Linked DNA regions of Homo sapiens: region 1 is linked to region 2. The links come from fine-mapping of genetic effects on gene expression. Tissue or cell type: whole blood. Region 2 holds a variant in brackets; the other region holds the start of a gene. All regions are shown on one strand. Distances are between the middles of the regions. Region 1 holds the start of SP3 (Sp3 transcription factor). Region 2 overlaps SP3 (Sp3 transcription factor).

The links. PIP is the estimated chance that this variant, and not a neighbour inherited with it, causes the effect.
Region 1: it holds the start of SP3, and the variant in region 2 is fine-mapped to the expression of SP3 in whole blood (TOPMed, PIP 0.91).

Annotation. Positions count from the first base shown.
Region 1 is chr2:173,959,968-173,971,410 of GRCh38, reverse strand. It overlaps SP3 (Sp3 transcription factor), which reads left to right and starts at 6,038. Exons shown (of 7, transcript NM_003111.5): 1 at 6,038-6,246; 2 at 6,858-7,006; 3 at 7,528-7,650. The coding sequence starts at 6,240. RefSeq lists silencers at 5,791-5,860, 6,361-6,640, 6,971-7,460, 7,591-7,840 and enhancers at 6,701-7,523, 7,524-8,347.
Region 2 is chr2:173,927,763-173,939,205 of GRCh38, reverse strand. The region is part of intron 4 of SP3 (Sp3 transcription factor); the gene reads left to right. Among named protein-coding and RNA genes, the nearest start is that of SP3, 32 kb to the left of the region's middle. The variant G/T (reference allele first, on the strand shown) is at 4,764.

The DNA of each region.
Region 1 (11,443 bases), 32 kb before region 2:
AGGAGTTTGAGACCAGCCTAGGCAACATGACGAAACCCCGTCTCTACTAAAAATGCAAAAAAAATTAGCTGGGCATGGTGGCGTGCACCTGTGGTCCCAGCTACTCCGGAGGCTGAGGCAGGAGAATCGCTTGAACCCAGGAGGTGGAGGTTGCAGTGAGCTGAGATCATGCCAGTGCACTCCACCCTGGGCGACAAGAGTGAAATTTTGTCTTTAAAAAAAAAAAAAAGGATATAGAACAAGAACTCAGGTGACAGGAGATAGAGATTTGGGAGTGAGTTTGGAGATGAGGGCTGACATTGCAGAATGCTGTGTTTCCAGCTTCTGAAGAAAAGCTCGGGGAACCAAAAACAAAAGAAACCCTAAAGCAGCACTGTCTGATAGCCACTAGCCACATGTGGCCATTCACATTTAACTTTAATTAAAATAAAAAAACCTTCAGTTCTTCAGTCATACTAGCCACATTTCCAAGTTCCTAATGGTCACATGTGGTTAGTGGCTATGGTAATAGGCAGTGCACACAAAGAATATTTCCATCACCACAGGTAGCTTTTTATGGGACTGCACTGTAAAGATACAGAGAAATATATATTTGAGAGAAAACCAGAAAGCTGATAATGTTCAAGGGAGGGGAGAGTGTTAAGAAGGAAATATTTACAGTGTCAAATGCTGAAATTGGGTGTAGAATTATATTAGGAAGGCAGTAGGAAGACAGCAAGTTACTGAGACTTTGGACAAGGAAAGGGAGGAAAGAAAAAAGATAGTAGCTAGGGACAACCACAGTCACATGGAGGATTTTTAAAGATAGGAAGGAATGTTTATCTTCAAACATAGCTATGTTTGAAGACAAATGGACAAAGGCCTGTGAAGATGGTAAGAGTCCCCAAACCCAAGCCTGCCCTTGCTTCTCTCTGTGGCTCTAAACTCAATTTGACAACAGTCTGTTGGCTATCCATCTCATGGAAGTCCTGCTAGCACCTCCAGCTCAGCACATCTAAGAACAAACTCATAATGGCCCACCACTTACTCATGCCCTTTTAAGATCCTTTACTTCAGTTCATCTTTCCAGTTACTAAAAGCTGGGAAACTTAGTATATTTGAATCATTCTCTTTTGCCTCCAGCCCTTTGATCAGTTACCTGGGCATACTTACTGCAGTACTTCTCCTATCAGTTACTTTTTTTTTTTTCTAGTTTAAAATAATGCTCATAGTATTTCAGGCAAGGAGAACAATATAGAGAATACAATAATAATACACTCAGCCTAGCTTAAGTTAAATTTGCAAATGTAAACAAAGCCCATGGGAAACTCATTCAAATGCCATTCTCCTCTTCATACCAAGGGTAATCACCGTTTTAAATTTAGCACACCATTCCTTTGCAATTACAGTGTTACTACATATGTATATATCCATATATAGTATAGAATATAATTTGGTACATTTAAAAACTTTATATAAATACAGTAGTAGCATAACATTTATTCTTCTATAACCAGGCTTTTTTCACACAGTATTGAGATTTATCCATGATGGTCATCTCTTTTAATTAATTATGGATTGTTCTGTTTATATATTAATGCATATATTATACATATATACTTATGTGTGTATAGATTATACATATATATGTGTGTGTATAATTGCATTTTTTATTCCAGCTGTTTGGTTGGAATGGAGTGATGACATGGTGCAGCACTCAGCCATTTTAGGGGGAACTCGAAAAATTCTGTTCCTTAAAGCAGGTAAAAGCTGCCTTCAATATTTTCTACAGTTCTATCCAACCTTCTCCTAACCACATCATTTTTTTTTTCCCCTTTCTCTTACCTTCTCTAACTAGGCTTTGGGTATCATTGACTCTTTTGAGATTAGTTGTTGTTTATGTCTGGTTTATATGACCAAAGAAAATAAACAAATTCTATTATCTAATTGAATCATAAAGTATGAATACACTCCATGCTGAAGGTTGTTGCTCCTCATTTAAGGACATCACACTTTAATGGCTTGAGGTTATTTATTACTATTTTTGAGAAAGGAAGAGATGAAATATGAGGGGGTTAAGTGTATTTAATGTAAACTAAAATGTTTCTGAAGTGTGATAGTGATTATGTAGTAGAACAACTTAAGATCCTTGAAATCCAGTGTGAACAGGTTAAAGAGCTCTAGGATGGTTAAAAGTAAGGTCACAATAATAGAAACAAAGGTTATGTTCTTGAGACATTAATTTAGGTTGAATGATATAGAATTGTCACCTTTTAAGATAAAAAACAGTTGAATACTGGCAATTTCATATGGTCCACTTGATAGACGTTCAGGAGGGAAGAAATGCAGAAGTAGGGAGTGTGAAGGAAAGGGCATAGGTCTTCAGGTGTGGTACCGTCAACCAGGGCCATCACTTTTTAATACTGAATGGCTAGGCTCTTGCAGATGTAGATCAAACCGTATTTAGTTGTCTCTTCTGTTTGTAGGGAAGAAACGGGTTGCAAAATATTCCATGCCAACAGGTGTATAGAAGCCTTCAGGGATTTTTCACCGTCATCACATTTCCAAAGGATTTAAGAAAACTTACAAAAACACATGACATTTTAAAAAGTGAGGAAATCGAGGATATGGGAAAAGAAAGTGACATCCAGATCTCCTAATATGATGTAAACAATGGCCAGCACAGTACTTCCTCAAATCGTTTTGGAAGAAAAAGTATAAATAATATCCAGCACTGTGATTCTCTCCCTGCTAAGCAACTGCAATTTTGGGTTACTATGTAAATGTAGCAGTAGGTGCCATTGAGAGGCAGCTTTCTAATAAGAAAATAAGTATTTTAATTAAATTGTATTTCGGCCGGGCTCATGCCTGTAATCCCAGCACTTTAGGAGGCAGAGGCGGGCGGATCACAAGGTCGGCAGTTCAAGACCAGCCTGGCCAACATGGTGAAACCCTGTCTTTACTAAAAATACAAAACTTAGCCAGGCATGCTGGCGGGCGCTACGTGATCCCAGCTACTGGGGAGGCTGAGGCAGGAGAATCACTTGAAGCCGGGAGGCGGAGGTTGCAGTGAGCCGAGACCATGCCATTGAAAAAAAAAATTTGTATTTCAAGATTTGACTACAATACTGAAATAGGTAGGAAAAGGTGTTCTTTCAAGAGACTATCTTCATTTCCAGCCATTTTAAAAAGCTATTCCATGACAATAACTCAAGTGTGGTCTAAGAGGGTTCTCTGAATCTGACTAAAGTAGTGAGTGATGCTTTTGGTATATGCATCTTTTGTTAAAAAATTTAAAAAACGGATACATATTTGTACATATTTATGGGGTACATGTGGTATTTTGATACATGCATACAGTGTTGTAATGATCAAATCAGAGTGTTTAGGGTATCTATCACTTTGGACATTTTTTTTCCGCCCCCTCTCCCCTGTCACCTTGAACATTTGTCATTTCTTGTGTTGGGAACATTTCAAATCTTCCCTTCCAGTTATTTTGGAATATAAAATATATTGCTATTTACTATAGTCACCCTACTGTGCTATTGAACACTAGAACTTATTCCTTCTATCTAACTGTATGTTTGTACCAATTAACCAACCTCTGTCACCCTACCTCCATATGTATCTCTTAAAAGCATCGCATCAAAAGCAGTATAGTTAGTTCAGGTAGGTTTTTTTTTTTGGGACAGTCTCAGTCTTGCTGGAGCGCAGTGGTGCCATCTCGGCTCACTGCAACCTCCACCTCCCAGGTTCAAGTGATTCTCCCGTCTCAGTCTCCTGAGTAGCTGGGATTACACGTGTGCGCCACCAAGCCTGGCTAATTTTTGTATTTCAAGTAGAGATGGGGTTTCACCATGGCAATCAGGCTGGTCTCGAACTTCTGACCTCAAGTGATCTGCCTGCCTTGGCCTCCCAAAGTGCTGGGATTACAGGTGTGAGCCACCACGCTCAGCTAGGCTATTTTTTTCTTTTTCAGAAGTGTTTTTTTTGCTTGTCAAAATGGTCTGCGGACGTGCCGTCCCCACCCCCCAAAAAAGAAAGAAAAAAGACAATTCATGTCTCATATCATTTGCCAATTGGTATCAATGAAGAAACGAATTTAACTCCTGTGGCCAAGTACTTTGCTCTCAAGGTGGCTGGACTAACACTTTGCAAAAAGGGTATGGCGATAGCGTAGAACATATCCCCACTCCTGAAAAAAAAAACAAAACAAAACTGAAAATGCCTGAAATATCCTTTCTAGGGAAAGAGCTACCTTCCACCCAAGAGATCCGGGTAGGAACAGAGTGATAATAGTGACTTCCCTTCCTCCCTCCCAGTCCACTTATTTTCACCTGTCCCGCTCTTCAAGGCACCCATCTCTTTTTCCATTTTCCCCACCCCAAATCAGGTTATTTTGTGACTTTTATTTCCTTAAAAGTTTTTGTTGTAAAATAGTACATAGGTTATACGACTCAACTTTGAAAGTGACTTTTCCACTTAAATATGAGACTACAAGGACTATTAGAAGAGATGAACCCTATTCTTGGACTCAGAATTTTGAGTCTCGTTTCCGCATGTTTGTGGTTTTTAGGTTAATTCCCTGGAAATTTGATCTTTGTACAATTAAGAGCAAAGTAACCATACAATGTTTCTGATCCTGTCAGCATAGGCGGTTAAGTGCTTTGGAACTGGGATGTAAACTCAGTATCTCACAAATGGATTACCTATTAAGTTAGGACACACAAAATCTGGTTAAAGTGCTTGGACTTCACAACCTCATCCACCAGCACATCACATATCACACAAAATATAATAATCACAGTAATGGGAAAACTGAATCTTGAGCCAGATTTCTAAAAAACAGGTATTGTGGACAGTGTTTCCACCTCTTGAATTTAACTTCTTTCTTGGCAACTATACTTGAAGGTAACAGGGAGAGATGTCTCTTAGTTGGCAAAACACACACTTAAAACCTGAGCATTTTCCCCCAGGATGACAGCAAGATACCAAGGATGCCAAAGAAGGAAGGAGTGTTAACCTAATCCAGTAAGAGAAACAAGATTTTAAAATACAACAAAAATGTTCCAATGGGGGAAAAAAGGTAGTTCACCGGTTCACGACTTTAAAAAACGTTGGCAGTGGTTGATGGGCTTATTTCAGGAGATATCTGACTTGGTACCAAGAGGATAAAGAGGCCGGGAATAATACGTTTGTGCAGCAAAATGGTTATGTGACCGATTTTTTAAAACACAGAATTCTGCCCCACTGAATACATACACATACCACAAGTAAAATGAAATATACTTTTAAGTGCCCGTTTTGGTGCCACTGGCCAAAATTAAAACTCTCCTTCCGTATGTGAGGTGACTTGAGATTTCTTTTTTGCTTTAAATGCCTGCCTTCAGGGTACGTGAAAGTGGGAGACCGGTTGGAAAACTGGGGCTAAGGGGGCTGGGAGCGAGATGGCTGTGACTGAATCAGGAAGCTGGATGTGAGAGAGAAAAATCCTCCTCCAGCCTCGGAGGGGGTGTCTCCCCTAATACCAGCTCCCTCCCCCCGGGCTCGTGGGGCGGGTCTGGTTTGCTCAGTAGCGGCAGCGGCCGCAGCAGCAGCCCCGGGGCTGAGCAGCGGTGGCCTCCTGGCAGCGCAGGGAAGCGGCGGCTCCAAGAGCGCGAGGCCCTGGGGAGATCCGGCCAAGACTGCTGCCGGGATGGAGGAAGCGTCCAGTGGAGCAGGAGTCACCGGGGACGAATTTCCTCCCCAGCTCAGCTCCCCTACAGCTTGGCTAGGCCTGCTCCGAGCGCCTGCAAGGTGGAGGAGGCCTGCGCCTCGGGCCTGGCAGCGGCAGCCGGCGAGGGAGGCGGGCACAGCGGGGTAACCGGCGAGCCGTAGCCGCTCTCGAAAACCTACGCTGCCACGGCCGCTCATTGTCTCTCCCCTTCCACCCGGGGGCAAACAGGAAGCGCGCCGCCTGGCAGACCGACGGACAGGCGCCTGGACCAATGAGCACAGCCGACAAAGAGCACGGCGGCGAATGAGAGCCAAGAAGAGGGGCGGGAGTTCCGGGCGGGCTGTCACCCTCTTCCCCCCTTTTGGGCTGGAGGCTCCACCTTTTGTGTTTCCCGCACAGTCAATCAAAATAGGAAAAAAAAATCCCCGGACCGCTCCGGCCGTGTCCGCCGCCGCTTCCCGCATCCTCTCCCGCCGCCGCCGCCTTCGCTCCTCACCATGTGTAAGGCGGCGGGGAGCCCCGCCTGAGGTGCCCTAAACACACTATGACCGGTACGTAAAGCCGAGAGAGCAACCCTTGCTGCTGCCGCCGCCGCCGCTGCCGCCGACCACAGCCAGCCCGGGGCCGCTGCCGCCGGTCTCGGCCCCGTGTGTGCGACCGAGTGTCTGTGAGAGGCAGAAAGCTGCACTCCCCTGCGCCTCCCTCCCCTCCCCGCCAGCCACCGTCCACCCCCGAAGCCCCAGCAACGCCGTCTCCCCGCCAGGCCCCGGGGCGGGCGGCCCGGTCCGCCGGGAGCGCATCCCCCTGTGTGCGGGCGCGGGCGGGCGTGTGTGAGTGACTGACGGTGCGAGAGGAGCGAGCGCGAGTGAGAGCGAGCGGCGCGAAGGGAAAGGGGAGGAGAGGAGAGGGGGCAGGGGCAGCGCGGGGAGGAGGAGGAGGAGGGAAAGAGGAGGAGGAGGAGGGTTACAGGCAGCGGCGGGCGGGGGCAGCAGCAGGAGGGGAGGAGGGAGCCGCCGCCGCCGCCGCCGCCGGGGGGCGGGTGGGGGAGGGGAAGGGGCCTGGGTCCGGGCTTTGGGAGTAATTTCGCTTCGGCCCGCGGGCCCCCTCCCTCTCCGCCACCCGCCTTCCTCCCCACCCCCACCCCCCCGCGCTGTGCCTGCAGCTCCCGAAAAGCCCGTGAAACAAGAGGAAATGGCTGCCTTGGACGTGGATAGCGGCGGCGGCGGTGGCGGCGGCGGCGGCCACGGCGAGTATCTGCAGCAGCAGCAACAGCACGGAAACGGTGCGGTGGCGGCGGCAGCGGCGGCCCAGGTGAGGAGCGGCTGAACCCCGGCCCGGCTCCCCCCTCGCGCCGCTTTCTCCTCCCCTCGCCTCTCCCCTCCCTCCTCGCCTCACCCCTCCCTCCTCGTCTCTCCCCTCCCCTCCACTCCCCTCCCCCCGCCCCGGGAGCTGCCCGCCCGAGGCGCCAACGCTCCGACCCCGCCCGCGCCGCCCCGCCTCGCCCGCCTGCCGCCTTTTTGTGCGCGTGTGAGTGTGGGCCCCAGCGTGCCCTCCCGGGGGTGGGTTCCGGGCGGAAGGCGGAGGCCCGGCGCGCAGCCCGCCGCCCGCCTGCCCGCGGACCGGGGAGCCGGGGTGCTTGGAGCGGGGGACGCCAGGCGTGGGCTGGCGGCGGGACCAGGAGGAGGAGGAGGAGGAGGAGGAGAGCGCGGGCTGGCGCTTGCCCGGGCGCAGTCGGCGGGGACCGAGTCGTACTTCCTGTGCGAAAGGCGGCCCGACCCTAACCGCCACCCCCTCCCCCTGTCTCCCTCTCTGAACCCGCCCATTGGGGGTAGGACACTCAGCCGTCACCGCTCGCTCTGCTGGCCGCTACCTGCAGCAAGATAGGGCCGCCATCGCCGGGCGACGACGAGGAGGAGGCGGCCGCCGCAGCCGGGGCCCCCGCCGCCGCCGGAGCGGTAAGTCCCGCGCGCGGCCCGCCCCCGCCGAGGCCGGGCGCCCGCCATCCCGGACCCGTGGCGCGCCTGCCCAAAAGGCCTCCCCGGCGCCCGCGCTTCCCCCGACCCGCACGGGCCGCTGGGCTCCAGGGCGCCCTTTCCTGCTCTTTCGCATCCCGGTTTGGATCTGAAGCCAGCCCAGGCTTTCTCGAAATTGTCACTGCAGCACCTCGCGCAAAATCTTCACAAAATGAAGTCTGAGAGGGCGGGGGTAGAGGACTCCAAAATGGATGTTTGAGCAATTCATATCAGTGCTGAAAACTCCTTCGCTTAACACTACAAAATTTTCAAGCACAGCCTATCGGCCATAGATAGTATCAACTAGAGGCAATGTCTTTAGTTTTTATTATTTTTGAACCTGGAGCATTTTCTGTTGGACGTTACAGGATCTTACTGCTTTAAATCATACATTATTAAAAAAAATGAGGGTTTATTCTTTGAATTACCCTTTTGTATGCAGGAGTGAAGACTGCTTTTTTAGTTGACCATTCAAAATCGTTGAATTTTAGTTTTTGCAGACTACTAAAATTTGCAGTGACTTTTTTTTTGTAAGGGGGGTAAATGAAACATTTAGCAGCCTTTGAAATCAGCAAGTTGCTTAGATAGTACTTTAGATTTTGAAACTGAATATAACAGTGTTAGAAAAGTATGTGTAAGGAATTGTATTTACGTGCATACTAGTAGTACAATACTTATAGCTGAATTTGGTTGGCAAAAGTATGTTTTCATTTTATTACGACTGCTAGTCAGGTAAGATATGGTGGGATTCTTTCTGTAGTGTTTTCAGTGTCTGGGCAAGGGGAGGAGCTCGCCTGTGTTATATGAGGGGTTAATACCAATAGGATAGGAACAGTTTTTAGACTGTTAATTGTGAATTTTACATTTGGGTCATCACTGTTGTGTAGATTTGTTCACCTATTAAAATAATGAAAACCCTCATTTGAGTGTGTGTGTGTGGTGGATCATAGGAATTGATTTGTGGAGTGATACTTTCAATAGTCACTGAAGACAGAAGTTTGGTATTTGGTATAGTCTACAACAAATGCTTAGTATGTCCAGGTATTTTTTTTTTTTAAGTTAAACCAATGTTAAGCTATTACTGGTAAATAATTTGTAATTTTAGTGCTTCGTTATAGGGGATGTGAATAGTTTTAATGTCTTGTTTTTTCATAAGCAGATTAACATGTAAAAATGTAAAATTATATTAGGCTTTGTTATTTTTAAATACATTTATGGATTGGTACGCCTTCTGTTCACCTCATTTCAGCTTCGCTGAGAGTTGGTAGATTTTTTTATGAACTGTATCCCTCTAGTTCCAAAGTGCCAAAACAAATTGACTGTATCTTAAAAAACTACTGCATAAGTAAAATTAAAAAGCAGATTGCTTCTCCTGATCTTTTTTGTATTTCAAATGGAACAAAACTTTTCTTGTAACTGTAATTTGTAAAGTTTAGATATCAGTTTACAGATGGGGGAGGGGAGAAGGAAGGAAATATGGGTGAATAATATGTGTATGTACATACATATGTGAGTCTGAGGCCCAAGGATAGAATACTGTCTCCAACCTTAGCCAGCTGTGGCCATATACTTGTAGGGAAGTTTCCATGCTTCTTCAGCTGCTTTTCTGAATTACCAAATCACTCCTGACAACACATATTCTGCCACATGAAGACGAACTAGAATCAATCTGATAAATCTGAGATTTATCAATCAAATACATCATAATTTGCCAATCATAGTAAAATGAAAATAGTTTTGCCTAAAAAAAAAAAAAAAAAAAAAAAAACCCAAACCATATATTTATGATGTCTGGTACCTGCACCCAAGATTTTTCACTTTGAGTAAAATTGGTAAGACTGGCTTGTGTGTATTTGCCTTAGCAAATAGAAAATTTGCTAAAAATTTATTTTTCCAGTGCAAATATGAACTTAAGACATCTTTTCAGCACATCTTAGAAAAGGAAATTCACATGAGTTCATGGGCTTAGATAATCTTTTATTACTCAAATGACTGGGAATTATGAGAGGTTATAGCTGTGTTTTTAAATAATTGTATTTTGGAATAATTTTAAATTTATAGAAAAGTTGGAAATACAGAACTGAGTAATCTCATACCCTTCATCCAGCTTCCCCTAATGTTAGGATAATGATGATACATTTGTCCAAATTAAGACATGAACATTGGTATGACATTACTAACCAGACTTTGTTTGCGTTTCACCAGCTTTTCCACTAATGTCCATTTTCTCTTCTGGGATCCAGTCCAGGATTCCACATTGCATATATATTGTTGTGTTTAAACAAGTGGAAATATACACATACAGATGAACTTTATGCCAGTTTAGCTTGGTATTTTGAGATTAAAAGGGCCTTGAAAAGCCAATCAACTGTGCTGAAGATTGCTTTTAATATTTGGATTTTGAATTTGGAATTTGTCATAAAAGAGGATCCTAGCCAAGGGTGTTTGGTTACCCACAGTACATTGCTGAAGAAGTCTAGTCATAAAGCAGTCTCGTATATAATGTCGTACAACATGGACTCTGAAAGATGGTTTTATAGCAACGCTCCTTTGTACTTAAGTTGTGGCTAATTTTAGTAGTAAACCAGGAAATAGAAAAAAGTAGACCTTTGTGCAAGTATTAACTTTGACCAGTTTGCATTTATGTGAACTTGTGGATTATTAATTTACTTCATTTTTACTTTAGTGGAATAAAATAAGTGACTTTTATTTTTATTTTTATTTTTTTGAGACAGAGTCTCACTCTGTCGCCCAGACTGGAGTGCAGTGGCGCGATCTCGGCTCACTGCAGGCTCTGCTTCCTGGGTTCACAGCATTCTCCTGCCTCAGCCTCCCGAGTAACTGGGACGACAGGCGTGTGCCACCATGCCCGGCTAATTTTTTTTTTTTGTATTTTTAGTGGAGACAGGGTTTCACCGTGTTAGCCAGGATGGTCTCGATCTCCTGACCTCATGATCTGCCCACCTTGGCCTCCCAAAGTGCTGGGATTACAGGCGTAAGCCACTGCGCCTGGCCTAAAATAAGTGACTATTATGAAAGTGATTGCTTGATCTTTGGTTTAGGTTGTAAATTTAGTGTTCCTTAATTTGGCACATAAATGTTGAGCTAAAAAATAAGTAATAGCTTACTTCAAAAAAGTTATTTTGCCATTATTTAAAATAAGACCTGTGCTGTCATTGTAACTAATTCATTGGGTAGGGTAATTCTATTTGAAGTCTGAGTTCTTTTAGTGCTCTTTGAAGATTTTAAGAAACTTGAATATTTGCCTAAGTTCTTAATTTGTTTCCACCTCAGCTTCACACCTGTTCTTGTTTCCAGTTATACTCCTTCCTTTCCTATTTCTGGCTTTCGTAAAGGCATTCGTGGGAACTAAGTTAATAATCATTTCCAAATGCTATGCAATAGGTGGTGTGAATTTTTTCTTTTTCCGTTTCCACCGGTATATTTGTATGTAGAGAGACTTAGAGTGCCTTAGTTACAACTTTTTACTGTACTAATGCCAACATTCATGTTAGATGGTGTTTTGTTTGTTTTTTGAGAAAGGCTCGCTTTGTCTCCCAGGCTGGAATGGAGGTGTGTGATTACAACTCACTGCAGCCTCAACCACTGGGGCTCAGTTGATCCTCCCACCTCAGCCTCCCTAGTAGCTGAGACTACAGGCACGTGCCACCACGCCTGGCTAATTTTTGTATTTTTTGTAGAGATGGGGCTTCGCCATGTTGCCTAGGCTGGTCTT
Region 2 (11,443 bases):
TTGAGTCTACAGATAACTTACAGCGCTCTTGCTGTGCATGCCAGATACTGGAATTACAAAGATGAATATGATAATTCTTGCACTAAAGGTGCTCATAATCTAACAAGTTAGACTATGATTTCTCAACCTCTGCACTGTTGATATTTTGGGCCTGATGATTCTTTGTTTTGGGGCTGTCCTCTGCATTGTAGGATGTTGAGGAGCATTCCTGACTTACCCACTAGATGCTGGTAGCACTCTGTACCCCAGGCAGTTGTGATAATAAAAAAAATGGCTTCACACATTGCCAGATGTCCCCTGGAGGACAGTTCTTCATCTCCCCCTTAAGAATCATTGGGTTAGACAGACATGCACATGATTCTAGTATAATGTGATAAATGGTATATTAACATTGAACCCCACAGCACTTTAGAAACAGGAATAGTGGAGTAACCTTCAGGTTGACATCTTTCAAGACTTAGCCCAGATACTGCCTTATCCCGCAGCCTTCCCTTCTTCTTGCCACCTTTGAATTACCGCTTGTTTAATAGCACTTGTCCTTTGTCTTGTATTATAGCTAACATGTATTTCTTGTTTTGGGATTGGGCAGTCATTGCTTACTCATCTTTTTTTTTTCTGCATTCTTTTTTTTGATGGATAAAATGAAGAGATGCCAATAATAGATACAGAATAAACGTAGATTTGTGTGGAAATGTGTAATGTAAATTTTACCTGTTTGGTTGCTTTTTTTTTTTTTTTTTTTTTTTGAGGCAAAGTTTCGCTCTTGTTGCCCAGACGGGAGCACAATGGCACTATCTCGGCTCACTGCAACCTCTGCCTCTTAGGTTCAAGTGATTCTCCTGCCTCAGCCTCTCCCGAGTAGCTGGGATTACAGGCGCCCACCACCACGCCCGGCTAATTTTTGTATATTTAGCAGAGACAGGGTTTCACCATGTTGACTAGGCTGGTCTTGAACTTCTGACCTCAGGTGATCCACCCTCCTTGGCCTCCCAAAGTGCTGGGATTATAACTTTGTTCAGATGTGATAGTTGCATTCTGTGTTTCATACCTCTACCAATTCTGTAATTGTGTTAAATTTGTAGCTTTTTAAAAACTCTTGACATTAAGAATTATGTTTCAGAAGCCAACATATAAACCTGTGGGGGAAGAAACTAAGAGAAGCAAGAGGAACGTTAGGTTTAGTCTTACGTGCATATGAGAGAATTTAGGAGAATTAAATGACTTGCCCTAAAGTCATTTTTTAACACTGTAGATTTAGTGTATTTTTATTCTAAGAATAACATGATGAGAGATTTTTTGTAAGTTCTTTATCTTTGAGCAGTACATAATGAAATATTTGCAGATGAAATGTTATATCTCGGATTTGTTTCAAAATGAGGTAGTTTGGGTTATACATGAAATAGAATTGTCCCAGAGTTTGTGGAATTTGGGTGTTGGGTACATGGGAGTTTGTTATGCTTTCCTACTTTGGTATATATTGGAGATTTTCTAGAGTAAAAAGGTTTTGAGAATGTGAGTTTTAGCCTCATGTTTTTAATGAGTAGAAAATTTGGATTAAAAAATATTTTAAAACTTCTTTTTAAACATTTTTTTCTCGGACTTTAGTGAGCATCAGAATTATTTAAAAATTTTTTTTCAAGAAATTTAACATAAAGTAAGATTGGACTTTAATTTTGGTTCCAACATCTCCTGTGATGTTTGAGTTAGTAAGCTTTGTTCATAGTAACAGCTTGGGCAGGGTTTGTATACTTACTTGATTCACAAGTGGAAGAGGATTTTATGGTTCTGTTGTGAAAGCCTTGAAGATGAAGTTTTGACTGTTTAGGCTATTTCCCTGCATTATCTCTTGTGTTAATGAAGAAGGTAGTTGATAAATTTCAGGGGATAACCAGTCACACTAAACTGCAGTGGAAGTGTTCTTGGTTTTTCTTGCATATGAAGGGGAAAGTCAGATAAATTTTTAATAAATGTCTTTGCTGCTTTCATTTGGCAGCCTTGTTTGGGCACAGGGTTAATAAAGGCTCAAGAACTTGAGAGAGCGGGTGAACAAGTTTCTTACTGTGAAAATGTAAATAGTCAACTGTGTGCTTTTTTTGTATTGTCTGTAGAAGTATGTATGTGTTCATTTTCTCAAGAAGCTTACAGATTTATTGGAGTATTTAAGATAGATACATGGAGTAGTAATCAACAATATAAATCAGTGTGTGATCTGCAATATAAATCAATATAGTAAGTCACTAAATTGCATGATACAGATAACTGTGTAGAAGTTCAGAGGAACAGAAAATCAAAAAAGGCTCCAGGAGACCTAATAGAGAAGAGAGAAGTTTAATGGGGAATCTAGATTTGTATAGGTAGAGAGATGAGAGGAAGATGTTTACTAACAAGGTTTAAAAAAAAAAAAGGTAAGAATAGAGGCAAGGCAAAGTGTTTCTCCAAAAATGGTTCGTAAGATATTAATAGGTATTATTAAATGTTATAAAAATGCTTATTAGCATGTTAAAGTTTCTGAGAAATCCTGTGGGAAATAAACCTATTTAAGGAAAGGAAGCAGCATTTTTTTCTTTTTTAGATTATACATCTGTATTGATTAGTATTTCATTGGGTTACTTGTGAGGAACTACTTTGGGAAATGCTGTTATAGCATGAATAGAAATCTGGGCAGTTTGGTGACTGGTGGCTGATAGGACACATTTGAATAAGTATGGTGAGAGAATGAAAAGCACTGAATACTATTGGTGAGGGTTGCACTATTTTTAACCTTACTTAAGGAGCCTTTGAAAGTTTTTGAACAGAGGAATAACGTGAATAAATCAATGCTTGGAAGACATAACCTTCAGAACAGAGTGGAATGGGAAGAAACTAGCACTAAAGAAGGTAGGAGCGGGGCCAGGCATGGTGGTTCACACCTGTAATCCCAGCACTTTAGGAGGCCAAGGCAGGTGGATCACCTGAGGTCAAGAGCAGCCTGACCAATATGGTGAAACCCTGTCTCTACTAAAAATAGAAAAAAATTAGCCAGGTGTGGTGGCGTGTGCTTGTAGTCCGAGCAACTCAGGAGGCTGAGACAGAATTGCTTGAACCCAGGAGGCATAGGTTGCAGTGAGCTGACATTGTGCCACTGCTCTCCAGCCTGGGTGACAGAGCGGGACTCCGTTTCAAAAGAAAACCAAAAAAACAAAAAAGGTAAAAGGGGCTACTTTATTTAAACAGGGAGAAAGTAAGGAAGGAAGGAAGAATGCCAGACATTTCAAAGTATGAATTTTATAGGATTGGTGATTAGCTATCAGGAATACAAGAGATGAATCCGTTGGTGATTAGCTATCAGGAATACAAGAGATGAATCCGTTGTTTTAAAGTTATATCATTGGCACGTTTGTGAGGGGAAAACTGATCTGGGGACTCCAAGATGACACTAGTTGGAATGGATTGAATTTGTGGTTGAAATAATTGTTGCTAGTAGAGATGGAGGGCTGAGCCTAGGACAAAGGAATGGAATTCTGTAGGAGATGGTTGATAGACACAGTTGAAGTCAGGAGAGTTGATAAAACTGAGCAGGGGAATTATAAAAAGGAAGATGTTTTGGGAAATTTTGGGGATGGTGGAGTGTGGACCATAAAACGTGCAGGAAGTGTGTACATTTTCTACCATTTCTGAGATACTCTTTTAGGATAATAAAGTTTTAGTGGGTAATATATTTCTTTGGGTGACAGGAAAACAGGATTTCTCTTTCCCCTGACATTTGGCATTGTAAAGTTTAGTTTGCACTCAGATAGTTTGGTTTTGATTGTTTTGTTGGTTGGGTTTTGGTTTTGTCTTACTATTTTCCATCAGGAAAGCATCTACATGGATTGTCTGTCAGTTCTAGATAGTTCTAGCAGAGGTGATAACCTCTGCTTTATTTAAAAGTTAGCTTCTTTTAACCTGGACTGATCATTAATAAGTTAGAACACCCAGCTTTATGATTTTTGGAAACAGGGTCTCACTGTCTCACCCAGGCTGGAGTACAGTGGCATAATCATAGCTTACTGCAGCCCCGAACCTCCTGGGCTCAGTCAGTTCTCCCGCCTCGGCCTCCAATTACAGGCATGAGTCACTGCACCTGGCCTAGAACATCGACTTTAAAACAGGTTTTGGAAGAAAGAATTAATTGCTGGTATCTGATACCAGTCGACATATCAGTACACTTATTCCCTAAGCAAAATTTGCTGCTATATTTACATAAGACCTTCTTTGTGATGCTTTTTTATTTTCTACCACTTAAAGTATTTAATTCCCATTACTTCATGTAATTCAGCCATTCATTACCTTGGATCCTCTTATATGCCAAAATTCTTTCTTGAATGTTTAAGTGAAGATGGAATAGAATGTATTTATTTTTAGAAGAAAGGAGTTTCAGCCTTAGAACTGTAAAAGCAAAGCTTTTGACCTTGAAGGTAATACCTTATATTTGTTGATAAATAAGTAGAGTGCTGATTTAATTTTTTTTTTTACTTTTTATGTTTTATAGTGATGGGGTCTTGCTGTGTTGCTCAGGCTGGTCTTGAACCCCTGGCCTTGGGTAATCCTCCTGTCTCCCTCCTGAAGTGCCGGAGTTACAGGCCTGGCAATTGACTTTTTTGTTACAGTGTTAATAAATGGCAGAAAGTTAACTTTAAAGGGTGTAAGGAAATCTTTTTGAAAATTGGTGAAAATATCTTTAGTTTTGATTAACATTATGTCATTTATTTCCTGCTTTCTCCCTACTTTTTATAAATAAATTG[G/T]TTTTTTCACTCCTGTTTAATTTTCTTTCAGCCTATACTTGTTTCAACAGCAGTAACCACTCAAAAAGACTTGGTAAGAAAGTTTTAAAGAGGATTTAAAGTACTTGATGGCCAAAATGAATTTAAAAAATGGTATTTGATGTCTGTTTCCATTTTTGCTTTTTTTCCCATTCTAATCAATTAAGTGTTTGCTCTTTTTTTTTTTTAGAGACAAGTTCTCTCTCACTCAGACTGGATTACAGGGGTATGATTATAGCTCACTGCAGCCTCAAACTCCTGGGCTCATGTGATCCTACTGTGTTAGCCACCTGAGTAGGTGGGACTACAGGTGCCCCGCACTGTGCCTTGCTAATTTTTTTATGTTTTAATTTTTTGTAATGATGGGGTCTCACTATGTTGCCTAGGCTGGTCTTGAACACCTGGGCTCAAGCTATCCTCCCACCTCTGCCTCCAAGTAACTGGGACTACAGATGTACACCACCACATCCAACTCTTATTTCCGCTTTTCATTTGCTTTTATTAAATCTTCAGGAATTTCGTTGAAGGGCAAATGATGTTCCATGGTAAAGAAATTTTATTTGTCTTAGATTTACTGTTTTATCTAGTTAATGGAAGTAGTTTATTCAAGTAGTATAGCTCTACCACTTTATCATTTCATTTGCTTTTTGAAGCAGGGTTATATCAGAGCAAAAGGAAAATAAAGGTAGAATTTATTGAAAACGGTTTGAAAGTTTTAAATTGTGATTTTATAAATGTTACTTTATAACTTTTATATATATATATATATATATATATATATATATAAAGTTTTATAAATGTTAGTCATTTGTACTGTCTTCCTAATATTTCTGGTTCTCTTCATGGGCACACCGAAGTTGGGTGTAGCCATGGAGCTTGCTTTGGCCAATGAAATACGTCATGGTGATTGATCCATTAACATTGATTCATAAGTCAGGAAAGCAGCATCAGCTGACTTATGATGGATGTGAATAAAAAATAGACCTTTGTTTTAAGCCACTGTGATTTGAGGGGTTGTTACTGCAACTTAATTTTGCCCTGCTCTGTTATATAGGGGAGCCATTAGCCCTGTGATGCTATTAAGCACTCGAAATGTGGCTAGACTGAATTGAGATGTGCTGTAAGTGTAATAAAATACAAATTGAATTTTCAAGTTTTAGTATAAAAAATAGAATGTAAAACATTTCATGAATAATTTGTATTATTGATAAAAGATTGAAATTTAATTCTTTGGATATATAGGCATGCTTTATCTTATTGTGCTTCACAGATACTACTTAAAAAAAAATGAAGAATGTGGCAACCTCGCATTTGAGCAAGTCTGTTGACCCCATTTTTCCATCAGAACGTGATCACTTTGTGTCCCTGTGTCACATTTTGGCAATTCTTGGAATATTTCAAACCTTTTCATTATTATTTTTTATTTTTGTTTTTGAGACAGTCTCGTACTGTCGCCCAGGCCTGGAGTGCAGTGGTGCTATATTGGCTCACTGCAAGCTCTGCCTCTGGGATTCAGGCCATTCTCCTGCCTCAGCCTCCCGAGTAGCTGGGACTACAGGACCCCACCGCCAAGCCTGGCTAATGTTTTGTATTTTTAGTAGAGACGGGGTTTCACCGTGTCAGCCAGGATGGTCTCAATCTCCTGACCTCGTGATCCACCTGCCTTGGCCTCCCAAAGTGCTGGGATTACAGGCGTGAGCCACTGCGCCCGACCTTCATTATTATTATACTTCTTAACAGTGATCCGTAATCAGTGGTCTTTGATGTTACTGTTGTAATTGTCTTGGGGCACAACAGACCATGCACCCATAGAAGGTGAACTTAATTGATATAAAGGTTGTATGTTCTGACTGTTGCAACGACCAGCCGTTTCCTCATCTTTCTCCTCGGGCCTCCCTCCTCCCTGAGACACAACAATATTGAAACTAGGCCAGTTCCAGGCACGGTGGCTCACTCCTGTAATCCCAGCACTTTGGGAGGCCGAGATGGGCGGATCAGTTGAGGTCAGGGGTTCAAGTGCAGCCTGGCCAACATGGTGAAACCCATCTCTACAGAAAATACAAAAATTAGCCGGGCGTGATGGCAGGCGCCTGTAATCCCAGCCACTTGGGAGGCTGAGGCAGAACAATTGCTTGAACCCAGGAGGCAGATGTTGCAGTGAGCTGAGATCACGCCATTGTACTCCAGCCTGGGCAAAAGAGCAAAACTCTGTCTCAAGAAAAAGAAAAAACTAGGCAAATTGATAATAACCCTACAGTAGCCTCTAAGTGTTCAAGTGAAAGGAAGAATTGCACATATCTCACTTTAAGTCAAAAGCTTAGAAATAATTAAGCTTAGTGAGGAAAGCATATTGAAAGCCCAGATAGACCAGAAGCTGGGCCTCTTGTGCCACACAGCCACGTTGTGAATGCAAAGGAAAAGTTCTTGAAGGAAATTAAAAGTCCTAGTCCAGTGAACACGTGATAAGAAAGCAAAACAGTCTCATTGCTGATATGGAGAAAATTTTAGTGGTCTGGCCAGATATACCAGCCACAACATTCCTTTAAACCAAAGCCTAATCCAGAGCAAGGCCCCTAACTCTTCAATTCTGTGAATGCTGATAGAGGTGAGGAAGCTGCAGAAAGAGTTGGAAGTTAGCAGAATACTGGTCCATGAGGTTTAAGGAAAGAAACTGTTTCCATAACATAAAGACAAGGCTGCAAGTGCTGATGTAGAAGCTGCAAGAAGTTATCCGGAAGCTAAGATCATTGATGAAAATGGCCACACTAAACAACAGATTTTCCGGCTGGGCGTGGTGGCTCACACCTGTAACCCCAGCACTTTGGGAGGCCGAGGTGGGAGGATCACGTGGTCAGGAGTTGAAGACCAGCCTGGCCAATATGGTGAAACCCCATCTCTACTGAAAATACAAAAATTAGCCGGGCATGATGGCGCACACCTGTAGTCCTAGCTACTCGGGAGGCTGAGGCAGAAGAATCGCTTGAACCCGGGAGGTGGAGGTTGCAGTGAGCCGAGATTGCACCACTGCACTCCAGCCTGGGAAACAGAGCGAGACTCCATCTCAAAAACAACAACAACAAAAATGCCAGGCTGGTCTCGAACTCCTGACCTCAAGTGATCTGCTCGCCTTGGCATCCCAAAGTGCTGGAATTACAGATGTGAACCACCGCGCCTAGCCAGCAACCACCATCTTGATCAGTCAGCAGCAATTGACTTTGAGGCAAGACCCTCCACCAGCAAAAAGATTACGATTTACTGAAGGCTCAGATGATTGTTAGCATTTTTTAGCTGTAAAGTTTTTTTAAATTAATGTACTTTTTGTTTTTTTAGACATAATGCTGTTGCACACTTAATAGACTGCAGTATAGTATAAACATATGTACTGGGAAACCAAAAAAATGTGTGGCTTGGTTAATTGCAATATTAGCTTTATTGTACTTGTCTGGAATCAAATTTGTAGTGTTTCTGAGGTATGTCTATATTAGGTTAAATGAAATATATTAAAGTTAATTTTACCTTTGAGTTTTACTTTTTTAATGTGGCTGTTAGAAAATTTGAAGTTAACGTACGTGGCTTGCATTGTATTTCTATTAGACAGCACCTATATTATTACAGCCTATCATCACTTAAGTCAAAATTTATACAAGGAATAGTATGCTCTAACAAAAAACTTCAACTGTGGCATTGGCCTGAGGATCAGGCAGCAAGGAAACTGATGTTAGATGCTAGAAACATGACGATGCAGAGAACAATATTATTATATAAAACTTAACGTGCAGTAACTTGGAAGGCAAGTAATATATTTAATGCATTTGAAGCTTTTGGGACAAGGTTGGAAAACAAATTGTATTTTAACTGGTACTGGTTTCATTTGACAAGGTGTTATAAGAAAGAGATGAGCTAGAAAATAATTGGTTAGTTTGCAAGTATGAATGAAAAGCAATACAGAGTCCAGAAATTTGGGAATTTGTAGGATTAGAAGAAGCAATTACTGCTGCACCTTTTTTTTTCTTTTTAATTAAATTAGAGGCAGTCTCCCTGTGTTACCCAGGCTAGTCTCAAATTCCTGGGCTCAAGCAATCCTCCCACCTTGGCCTCCCAAAGTACTGGGATGAGCGACTGTGCCTGACCAGTAGTTGCTTCTTACCTCCAATCAGTAGGAGACACAACTGAAAAGGCTTTTGAGTAGATAATTAAAATTCATCCTTTTGGTAGGATCCAGTCAGGGTTATGACCATCACTTCCATTGTTAAAATGTCTGAAAGGATTAAGGTAATTCAGAGTAAAGGCCAACTTGAGAGGGAATTGCTTTTCAGTTGGGTTAGGGAAAAGAGACTAAAGGTATGGAACCCCTGCTAAAGCCAGGTAAACTCAAGGTACCCATAGTTAGAGAGAAATAGACACACTGTCTCATGGGGCAAGAAAGCAAAGAAAAGTAGTAAATCTAAGAGGCATATCTTAGAAAAAAGCTTTGGTTCTGGACATTGGCGCTTGGAATTGGATAGAATCAAATAGATAAGCCTTCTAATTTTTTCAGGGAGAGGCATAGACAAAAGTCTGAATAAAGTATAACTGCTTGATACATAATGATCTTGCTCTCTGCCCCATACCTCCCTGACCTATCTGCCTGCTGAGAATTCTGCTCTGCTAAGGAGTCACACTCTCTGATGCTCACTTCACTTGTAGCGTTAGAAGATAACAGACCAGGAAAAACCTTCCAGAAGGCAGAACCTAGAGGCACAGAGAACAGCAGACTTAGAAACTCCTCCCAAGGGTCAGTCAGAGCATTCCCCACCTTCCAGGACAGAGAGCCCTTGCACAATCTGTTCAGCCTGGCTTATGAATTGCTATGAACTACTGACTGTTGTCTTCTTTTCTTCTTTTGAACTGGAGCATTTTTTATATTCTGTCAGTGTGTATTGTGTGTGTGAAGGGAAGTAGATAACTTGTTTTAATAAATAGGTCTCTGTGAAGAGGGGCTGCATCTGGACTTGATATAGAGGTGATTTCCCCATCAGCGCAGATCCTGTCCTTTGATCTTGATGCTGAGACTGGATGGGATATTTGGGTTACCTTCTGAATGGAGGGACAGGTGTATTTTTTCATGTGGGAAGAATAAATATTTGACAGCAGGGGACTAGGGAGTCATGATTCTTCATAAAATAATCATTGAATTGCCCTTTCCTTTAATTCTTAATGTCGGGCATGGCCACGTGCCTTTTTGTAACCAGTAAAATGTGAGTGGAAGTTAAAGAACAGAATGTGATTTGCCACGTTTTCTTTCACCTTTGGCAAGGCAACCTTGGAAGCATGTATCAAGTGGAGCCTGGAAGCATGTATCAAGGGGAGCCTGGACTCCTGAGGCACTGTCATGATCACATCTCCCTTACCAACCTGAATTGGACATTTGAAATTAGTGAAAAATAAATTTTTGTTGTATCAAAGCCATTGAGCTTTTGTGATTGATGTTACTGTAGCACAGCTTCACTGATTCTGATTAATGTGTTAGATTATAATTTTGGTCAACAAATGTTCGCTCAATATAGTTGTTCAATAAATGTTTGAATCAAATATGTAAAAATTGGAGGGCAAAAGAAAAATGTATAAATTCTAAAACTGCCAAGATCCAGGTCTTTGGCTTTTATTCTTTGTGAAAGCCAACCACATGGTGACTAAGGGTCCTCTAATTATATAGGTAATACGGCAGAGATGATTTAGGTAGCAGACACGGGAAAATAGAAAACAATGAAGCTTGTAAATAACTAGGGGTTCAAAGCAATACATAGGTGTCGTTTAGTGGATCATTTAAAGCATTTTTTCTTCTATTTATATTGATACCAACTCAGGATTGTTTACAGTCTGCAGAAAGTGTTGGAACGGAATCATTTTATTTACAGGCAGTTCTGCTTTTTTTTTTTTTTAATGAAGGAAGAAAACCCCAAACCATGTGTTTTTGTTGTTGTTGGTTGGTTGTTTTCCCCCTAGCCATTGCAGCAGTGGCAGAAACATCAGTTTTAGTCCAGTGCTAGAGCAGAGCCTTTTCCTCAAATGACATCTTAGGCAGAACTCCAGTGTATAAAACTAATATTAATGGGGCTGCTCTGACTTACATGAGGGCCTGGGGCCCTCTTCTCTGCTGACACTTAACAGTTTGAAATTTCCTGTACTGAAGCAGATATACCTGCCGTGGCCATCTTCATTTTGAAGGGTTTGAGTTTCTTAAGAGTAGCCTTAGATCCTTTCTTTAGTCCTAATTTATTTAATGTTTATATACAGTTTTAACAATTCCGACTGCTTTCCAAATTTAAAACTGGCTTAGAAAATGTACAGTAGAAGGGATGATGGGTACGGTAACCTGGGAGGTGGAGGATGGAGAGTTGATATCACCAGAGTTGGGAAGAAGGCAGGAAAAACAAGTAGAAGAAATAAAAAACTATAATTATGAATGTTTTTAGTTCAGTGTTCTAGGGCCTATTTGATACCATAAATTACTTTTAATAATGAATTGGAATAATTAGACAAAGATTAAATAACGTTCTGAGCTTCCTGCCAAGGAAAGTAGGTAAATGTGTAATTGATTCTGGAGAAATTTTTGTTCAAGATATCATAACTATCTTAAATAACTGATGCCCTGAAGGTTTTGAATTTTAGAAGTTTTTGAT